2 linked regions of the Homo sapiens genome follow. The protein of the gene in region 1 interacts with the protein of each later gene in a biochemical or structural test. Each region holds a gene or a part of one and is shown on either strand. Other genes may lie near its edges.

Region 1 (3,812 bases):
CAACCTCGGCCTCCCAGGTTCAAGCGATTCTCCTGCCTGCCTCAGCCTTCCTGAGTAGCTGGGATTACAGGCATGCGCACCACGCCCACCACGCCCAGCTAATTTTGTATTTTTAGTAGAGATGGGGTTTCCCCATGTTGGTCAGGCTGGTCTCGAACTCCCAGCCTCAGATGATCCACCCCCCGACCCCCAACTTGGCCTCCCAAAGTGCTGGGATTACAGGTGTGAGCCACCATGCCCAGCAGTGTTGAAATTGTTTTAATCAGAAACAGTAAGGCTGGGGAGACTGGTTGAGACTTATCCTTACATCTGGGATCTAAGACTGAGGTCGTGTTCAATTTACCAGATCACTCTGCCTCGGAGCCTCCATATCTATGTTGGAACATTCTGGAATGTTGCTAGGTTGGGTGATTCCTCTTTTCTGTAGGAGTTTCTTCCCCACTTTCACCTAGTACCGGTGACTAAATGCCCATGTGAGGGCATTAAGTGGGTAAGGCACTCTCTGGAAGCTTCTGCTTGATAAGCCGCCTGTCTAATTTGAGAAACAGCCCTGATGGAGGGTAGCAGGTGGAGGTGCCAGGTGCATTGTGTCAGGAGGGAGCCATGAAAACTGCTGAACAGTGCTTGTCTATGGCTTCACAAGTCCTTCAGTTCTTTTTTTGCTTTACTTTGTTTCATAGATATTAATGACTGTGAGAGCAACCCTTGTAGAAACGGTGGCACTTGCATCGATGGTGTCAACTCCTACAAGTGCATCTGTAGTGACGGCTGGGAGGGGGCCTACTGTGAAACCAGTGAGTCTGCCACTCTTTGGGGAGCTCTGGGATGTATGGGTCATGTTGGAGGGATCCCACTTCAACGTGGGAAAACTTTCTTTGTACTGGAAATCTCTGGAAGCAAGACCGCAGTGATTTCTGCACTGGGACAGTATCACTTGTGTCTCATTTGCATTTATGAGTCCTGATGATAGCTTATGGGGAGGAGCTTCTGCTGAGGACCTATAGAATTAGACTGTGTAATAAATATTCCTGCTTGCAAGGAAAGTCATATTTCTACTTTCATTTCCATGGGACTTCCAGAGGCCCACCCCACATCTTGCCTAACTTGTGGCATTCAAAGTAACCCAGTTGGGAGCTCCTTTATTCCTGGAAAAGCCTGATTGTGTTAAAGTACTACGACTGTGGCTGTTCTCAGAATAGGATGTTGGATGTAAGCAGTAGGAAAGGCTTGGCTCTCGCCTGTCGTGAATGGTCCTGGATCTCGTCTTCAGCCGATTGTCTCCCCTTTGATTCTAGATATTAATGACTGCAGCCAGAACCCCTGCCACAATGGGGGCACGTGTCGCGACCTGGTCAATGACTTCTACTGTGACTGTAAAAATGGGTGGAAAGGAAAGACCTGCCACTCACGTAAGTGGTAGTTGGCCTTGGATGCTATCTCTGGGACCCTTCCCTCTGTCTTCTGTGGGAGGGGGCCACTGGGACTCACACTGAAATATTTTCCTCCAGGTGACAGTCAGTGTGATGAGGCCACGTGCAACAACGGTGGCACCTGCTATGATGAGGGGGATGCTTTTAAGTGCATGTGTCCTGGCGGCTGGGAAGGAACAACCTGTAACATAGGTAACTTTATGCCCCACGTGGGATCTGCAGTGGGCATGGCCACCTGGGCGTGTCTGCTGGTTGGCCCCTGGAGCTTATGATATTTCTCTGGGCCTGGTTCTTGCCCCTCCAGACTGTTTCTGGATACTCAGGGAGGGTGGTCGTGTCTGCTCTTCTTTTATAGCCCGAAACAGTAGCTGCCTGCCCAACCCCTGCCATAATGGGGGCACATGTGTGGTCAACGGCGAGTCCTTTACGTGCGTCTGCAAGGAAGGCTGGGAGGGGCCCATCTGTGCTCAGAGTGAGTGTCCTCCCCCCTTGAACTCTCCCAGGGCTGTCGGAGCAGATCCTGACACCCTTGGGGACTTGCAATGGAAACCAGAAGCAGAGCTGTTTGATGTCTGCTTTTGTATCACCTGGGTCTGCATTAATGACTTGATGGGATACAGCCCTGACCTGGGCATGAGAAAGTCGCCAATAAGATAAGTGGAGACAGATGGCGTCTCAGTTCCCAGCTCTGGGTCTGACCAGCAGCCTGTCTCCTTCCATTCTCACCCCCACCCCTATCCCCTACCAGGGCCTCTTCCTGTGTACATGTGTCCCACAGCAAATGAAACTAAGTGTGGTGCGGGCCTGGTTCCAATTTAGCAAAGGTATTTTGCTGGTGTTAACTACGACTTTATCATTTGGGTATTAGGAAAATAAGTGGTGGTTTTACTTAGGGCTAAGACCGCTTTCCCTGTTGAAGTCCTCACTATTAAGTTGTCTTTTCTTTGCAGATACCAATGACTGCAGCCCTCATCCCTGGTAAGTGTGACATCCTTTTAAGCCAGCACTCATCCACTATCGTGTGTGTGTGTGTGTGTGTGTGTGTGTGTGTGTGTGTGAGAATCACCCAGGGATTGTGTTTAAAATGCAAGTTCTGAGTCAGGAGGTCTGGGGTGGGGCCTCAGACTGCTTTTCTAACAAGCTCCCAGGTGAAGCGATCCTGCTGCCCCATGGACCACACTTTAATTAGCCAGGTTGTGTCCTCATTTAGAGCAGTGATTTTTCAACCTTGGCTGCACACCAGAATCACCTGGGAGCTTTTAAAAATCCCGCTGCCTGGGCTGCAACCAAGACCTGTGAAATTAGACTTTCTGGGGGTGGGACCCAGGCATCAGTATTCTTTTAAAATTCCCCAGGCAACGGCCATGGGGTGAGAGCCACTGACTGTAACTGGTGTGGTGACATGTGAGTGATTGGCAGCCAGAGTAATGGACTGGGAGGTTGGTAACCAAGGTGGTCTTTGCTTTCTTAGTTACAACAGCGGCACCTGTGTGGATGGAGACAACTGGTACCGGTGCGAATGTGCCCCGGGTTTTGCTGGGCCCGACTGCAGAATAAGTAAGGACTGTCTCCGTCTGGTTTTCCCAATGGCTTTACCGCTTCATTCCATGCCTCACCCCAAGACTTTCATCTTTAAAAACAAAGCCACCATTCCCTTTAAGTAGCTCTCATAGAGCAAAGGATCTCTCTCCTCCAGCTGGGATTAAGATATGCCAGGCTGGATCCTCCCAGGTACCTGCTGGTAGTTCCCTGGGTGGTGTAGCCCTCCTTGTTCTTGGGGAGAGAGTGCCAGTCACAGAATCTGATGATTAATCTACAGTGGGGTCCTGAAGAAAGTATGTGCATTTCCCCATGACTAACATGAAATTATGGGCAAGCAGATGTTAACCACAGCTACACTGGTATAGGATAAAGCTAATACAAACGGAAGGGAGGACGACTGTGGCTTCCAGAGGCTTGTCTGTGCTGGGTCTGATCAGGCCCTGGAGAAATGACTAAAACAGGAAAATAGGGGCAGGCAACGCAGTTTTTCAAGAGGCTTAAAGCATATTATTTTGAGCCTTTTCTCTACTTTTTTACAAGCCCTTTCTCTTACAGAACAAAAAAGGTGCTAGAGTAGTTATGGTTTGATTCTTGTACCCAAATTGTCTGAAATTTTACTGGTGCTTGAAATCCAAGTCTGGGATTAACTAGTCTTCAGCACTAGATGGGGGCAGGTTGTATCTGTTTCATGTTTCTAAATAAACAGTTGGCAAACTGTGGCCCAGGGGCCGTATCCAGCCCACTGTCTGTTTTTATAAATACAGTTTTCTTGGCACACAGCCACACATTCATTTATGTATTGTCTATGGCTACTTTCATGATACCACAAGAGTTGGATAG
Region 2 (3,812 bases), on another chromosome or scaffold:
TCCACCTGGCTCTCGCAGCGTGTGCCCGTGTAGCCAGGAGCACAGGCACATGAGAAGCTGGCGATGCCATCCACGCAGCGACCATGGTGGCATGGGTCAGGGGAGCAGTCGTCCACGTTGCGATCACACAGCGTGCCCTCAAAGCCTGTGGGGCCAAGAGGGTCAGGCTCCGCCCACTTGCCAGGGGCCTGCCCACAAGTGAGGCCTCGGACCAATCCTGGTTCAGCTCTATCTGAGGCCCTGCCCATCAAGCTGTCAGGAGGCGAGCTCAATACAGGCCCCACCCCCCACCCCCCACTTACTTCCACTCCACCCCACTACAAGCTCCAGAATTTGTCCCTAGCCAAGACTCTCCCACAGTTAAATCCCGCCCCCAGCTGTGGCCCCACCTCCAGCCCTGTTTCTGCCCCACCCTCCACTGGAGATGGGAGCACATGGCAGGTGCCAGGGGAAGGTATTGGGCCCTCCCCATTCAGTTACAGGCACCCTGTGCCCAGCCCAACACTTTGGCTCCACACGTAGCCTTATGTCAGTCTATATGCATTATTGGCTCCACCCCCCAACTCTGTCACTGGGTCCTGCCTTGCTACAACCCCGCCCCCAAGCTCTCCCCAAGTCTGTTATTGGCCCTGTCGCCCACAAGCCCCGCCTCCTGATTCTTGTCGGACTGTCATTGGCCCGCCTCACCCTCGGCACAGCGGCACTCGTAGCCATCGGGCTGGTCCACGCATTTGGCGCCATTCCTGCAGGGCGTGCTGGCGCATTCGTCCACGTCCAGCTGACACGTGGAGCCGCTGAAGCCTGGGGTGGGGAGTGGGATGAGCAGAGGCCCAGAAAGGGTGAGAGCAGTACACCCCTCTCCAGCCCCGCCTTGTTTGGGTGGAAAAACCCATTTACTTGGATTTAAATTAACTTCAATGTTTCATAACATATGGTTTCTATTGTAAGTTATCCGCTAACGTGGTTTTACAGGTTCCCACCCTGGAGTTTTTGCCCCTTCCCAGACATGTCTTTTCGGGCTCCCTCTCCTGAGGTCCTCACCCGAGGGGCAGGTGCAGCTGAAGCCATTGACTCGGTCCTTGCAGACCCCACCGTTGACACAGGGGCTACTCTGACACTCGTCAATGTCCACCTCGCAATAGGTTCCTGTGAAGCCTGGGGCAGGGAATAGGGCTTAGGAAAGCGGGGGCTACCCTATGGTGTGAACGGGGTGCAAGGAAGGAGGTACTTCCCTTCCTACTCATCGACAAATCCCCCGAGCCTTCGTCCCCACCTCTACACTCCCAGCCCAACCTTAATTTTCAGCCACAGGCTGGACTGTCACCCAGCCGTGGTCCCAACTGGCCCAAGGCTCATGGGTGTCCGCAGAGGCCTTGCCTTCAAACCCCTCCTCCTCTCCCCAGTCCTCAGACTAAGCCCTTTCCCCAGTCCCCAGCCCCCAGCCCCAGGGCCCCCCATAGCCTTTGCCCAGGCTTACTGCAAGCTTGTCTGCAGGCTTCACCTTGACCTCACAGCAGCCCCGACTCTGCCTCTCTATCCCCAACCCCTTCCCGAGTGGGTCCTAAGGCCAAGAATACTCCCAGCCCACCTGAGGTTCTACTGACTCCATTTGACCAAGCCCCCAGAATCACACAGTATTCCCTTCTGGTCCTGACCCCACCTCCTTCCAGGCTTCAGTCTCTAAGGGTCCCACTCCAAACCCACTTACACCCCATTCTGCTCAGCTCCCCATCCGCGGGCTTCTCTGTCCCCGCCCCCTGCCTCAGGACCCGCCCAGGCCACGCCCACCACCCACCTGCCATACAGATACAGGTGAACTGGCCTATGCGGTCGAGGCACGTGGCCTGGTTTCGGCAGGGCCCCGACAGACACTCGTTGACATCGGTCTCACAGCGAGGTCCAGTGTAGCCACGACCGCACTGGCACAGGAAGGAGCCCTGCGTGTTCACGCACCTGCCCAAGTGCTCGCAGGGGTTGGCGCCTGCCGGATGGAGTGCGATCGGTGTGGGCGTGGCTGGCCGGGACCCCCTCCTCTCCCCTCTTTCCCAGCCCATTCACAGACGATGGAGCTCCCCTCACCGATAGAGCACTCGTCCACATCCTGGTCACATGCCCCACCCGTGAAGCCGGGAGGACAGGTGCAAATGGCCCGGCCGTTCACCGGATTTGTGTCACAGATAGCATCCTCGTGGCAGGGGTTGCTGACACAGGCGTCATCCAGGTGACACAGGAGGCCTGGGAAGTGGTAAGCAGAAGTCATAGGCAGATCTTCCTGCTCTGCCCAAAAGGCCCACACCCCTTGAGTATTGTTTTGTCGTTGTTGTTGTTTTGTTTTGTTTTTTGAGACGAAGTTTCGCTCTTGTTGCCCAAGCTGGAGTACAATAGCGCGATCTTGGCTCACTGTAACCTCCACCTCCCAGGTTCAAGCGATTCTCCTGCTCAGCCTCCCGAGTAGCTGGGATTACAGGCATGTGCCACCACGCCCGGCTAATTTTTTGTATTTTTAGTAGAAACGGGGTTTCACCAAGTTAGCCAGGTTGGTCTCAAACTCCTGACCTCAGGTGATCTGCCTGCCTCAGCCTCCCAAAGTGCTGGGATTACAGGCGTGAGCCACCGCGCCCGGCCTGTTGTTTTTATTAAACCTAAACAGTATTTAGTAGCTGCTTTTTTAATCCATTTATTATGAGAACTATCAAACATACAGAAAAGTTGACCATTCATATACCCACCACCTAGATTCAACTATTGTTAGCTTAATCTACCAATCTTCTTTTCTAAACCATTTAAAAATAAATTGCAGACCGGGCACAGTGGCTCACGTCTATAATCCTAGCACTTTGGGAGGCCAAGGTGAGTGCATCGCTTGAGTTCAAGAGTTCAAGACCAGCCTGGGCAATATAGTGAGACCCGTCTCTACAAAAAATACAAAGCTTAGCCGGGCATGGTGGCGCACGCCTGTAATCCCAGCTACTTGGGGGACTGAGGTGGGAGGATCACTTGAGCCCAGGAAGTCGAGGCTGCAGTGAGCTGAGATCATGCCACTGTACTCCAGCCTGGGTGACAAAGTGAGACTCTGTCTCAAAAATAAAATAAAATAAATTGCAAACATCCACATATTGTTTTAAAACCTTTTGACTCTTCTGATTACAAAAGGGTCCTACACTCCAGCCTTTGCTTCTGTAATACCCTCTGCCATGTATGCCCTCTTTCTATATCCACGTTCCCCTCCTAAACATGTTCTCTGATCTTTGCCACTTCCAAAGGTAACTCCCAGGAGTTCCCCATTCCAATGGCTTCTGCCCTGAGCCATGCATCAGTGCAATGTCAGCCTCCTCCCAAGCCTCTCCCAGGCTTACACTTCCCCACTAAAGCTGCCTCCAGCATCATCTTTTTTTCTCTCTCTTTTTTGTTATACACGGTCTTACACTGTCTCCCAGGCTGGAACGCAGTGGCTCAGTCTCAGCTCACTGCAACCTCCACCTTCTGGGCTCAAGCCATCCTTCAACCTTAGCATCCAGAGTAGCTGGGACTACAGGCATGCGCTACCATGCCCAGCTAATTTTTTGTATTTTTGGTAGAGATAGGGTTTTGCCATGTTGCCCAGGCTGGTCTCAAACTGCTGAGCTCAAGCAATCTACCCGCCTGGGCCTCCCAATGTGTTGGGGTTACAGGCGTGAGCCACCACACCCAGCCTACCAAGTTTTTGTAGAGATGACAAAAACTCACTATGTTGTCCAGGCTGGTCTCAAAGTCCTGGGCCCAAGCGATCCTCCCATCTTGGCCTCCCAAAGTGCTGGGATTACAGGCATGAG

Evidence for each region.
Region 2: the proteins of JAG1 (region 1) and NOTCH3 form a complex in vitro, tested with the Homo sapiens proteins (one study listed by BioGRID).

What each region holds. Positions count from the first base shown.
Region 1 is NC_000020.11:10,642,953-10,646,764, reverse strand, and holds part of JAG1 (protein jagged-1 precursor), read left to right. Parts: intron 1-680; coding exon 681-794; intron 795-1,295; coding exon 1,296-1,409; intron 1,410-1,508; coding exon 1,509-1,622; intron 1,623-1,785; coding exon 1,786-1,902; intron 1,903-2,380; coding exon 2,381-2,408; intron 2,409-2,901; coding exon 2,902-2,987; intron 2,988-3,812. UniProt on the Homo sapiens protein: Ligand for multiple Notch receptors and involved in the mediation of Notch signaling. May be involved in cell-fate decisions during hematopoiesis. Seems to be involved in early and late stages of mammalian cardiovascular development.
Region 2 is NC_000019.10:15,187,194-15,191,005, forward strand, and holds part of NOTCH3 (neurogenic locus notch homolog protein 3 precursor), read right to left. Parts: intron 2,236-3,812; coding exon 2,080-2,235; intron 1,982-2,079; coding exon 1,796-1,981; intron 1,156-1,795; coding exon 1,042-1,155; intron 802-1,041; coding exon 688-801; intron 146-687; coding exon 1-145. UniProt on the Homo sapiens protein: Functions as a receptor for membrane-bound ligands Jagged1, Jagged2 and Delta1 to regulate cell-fate determination.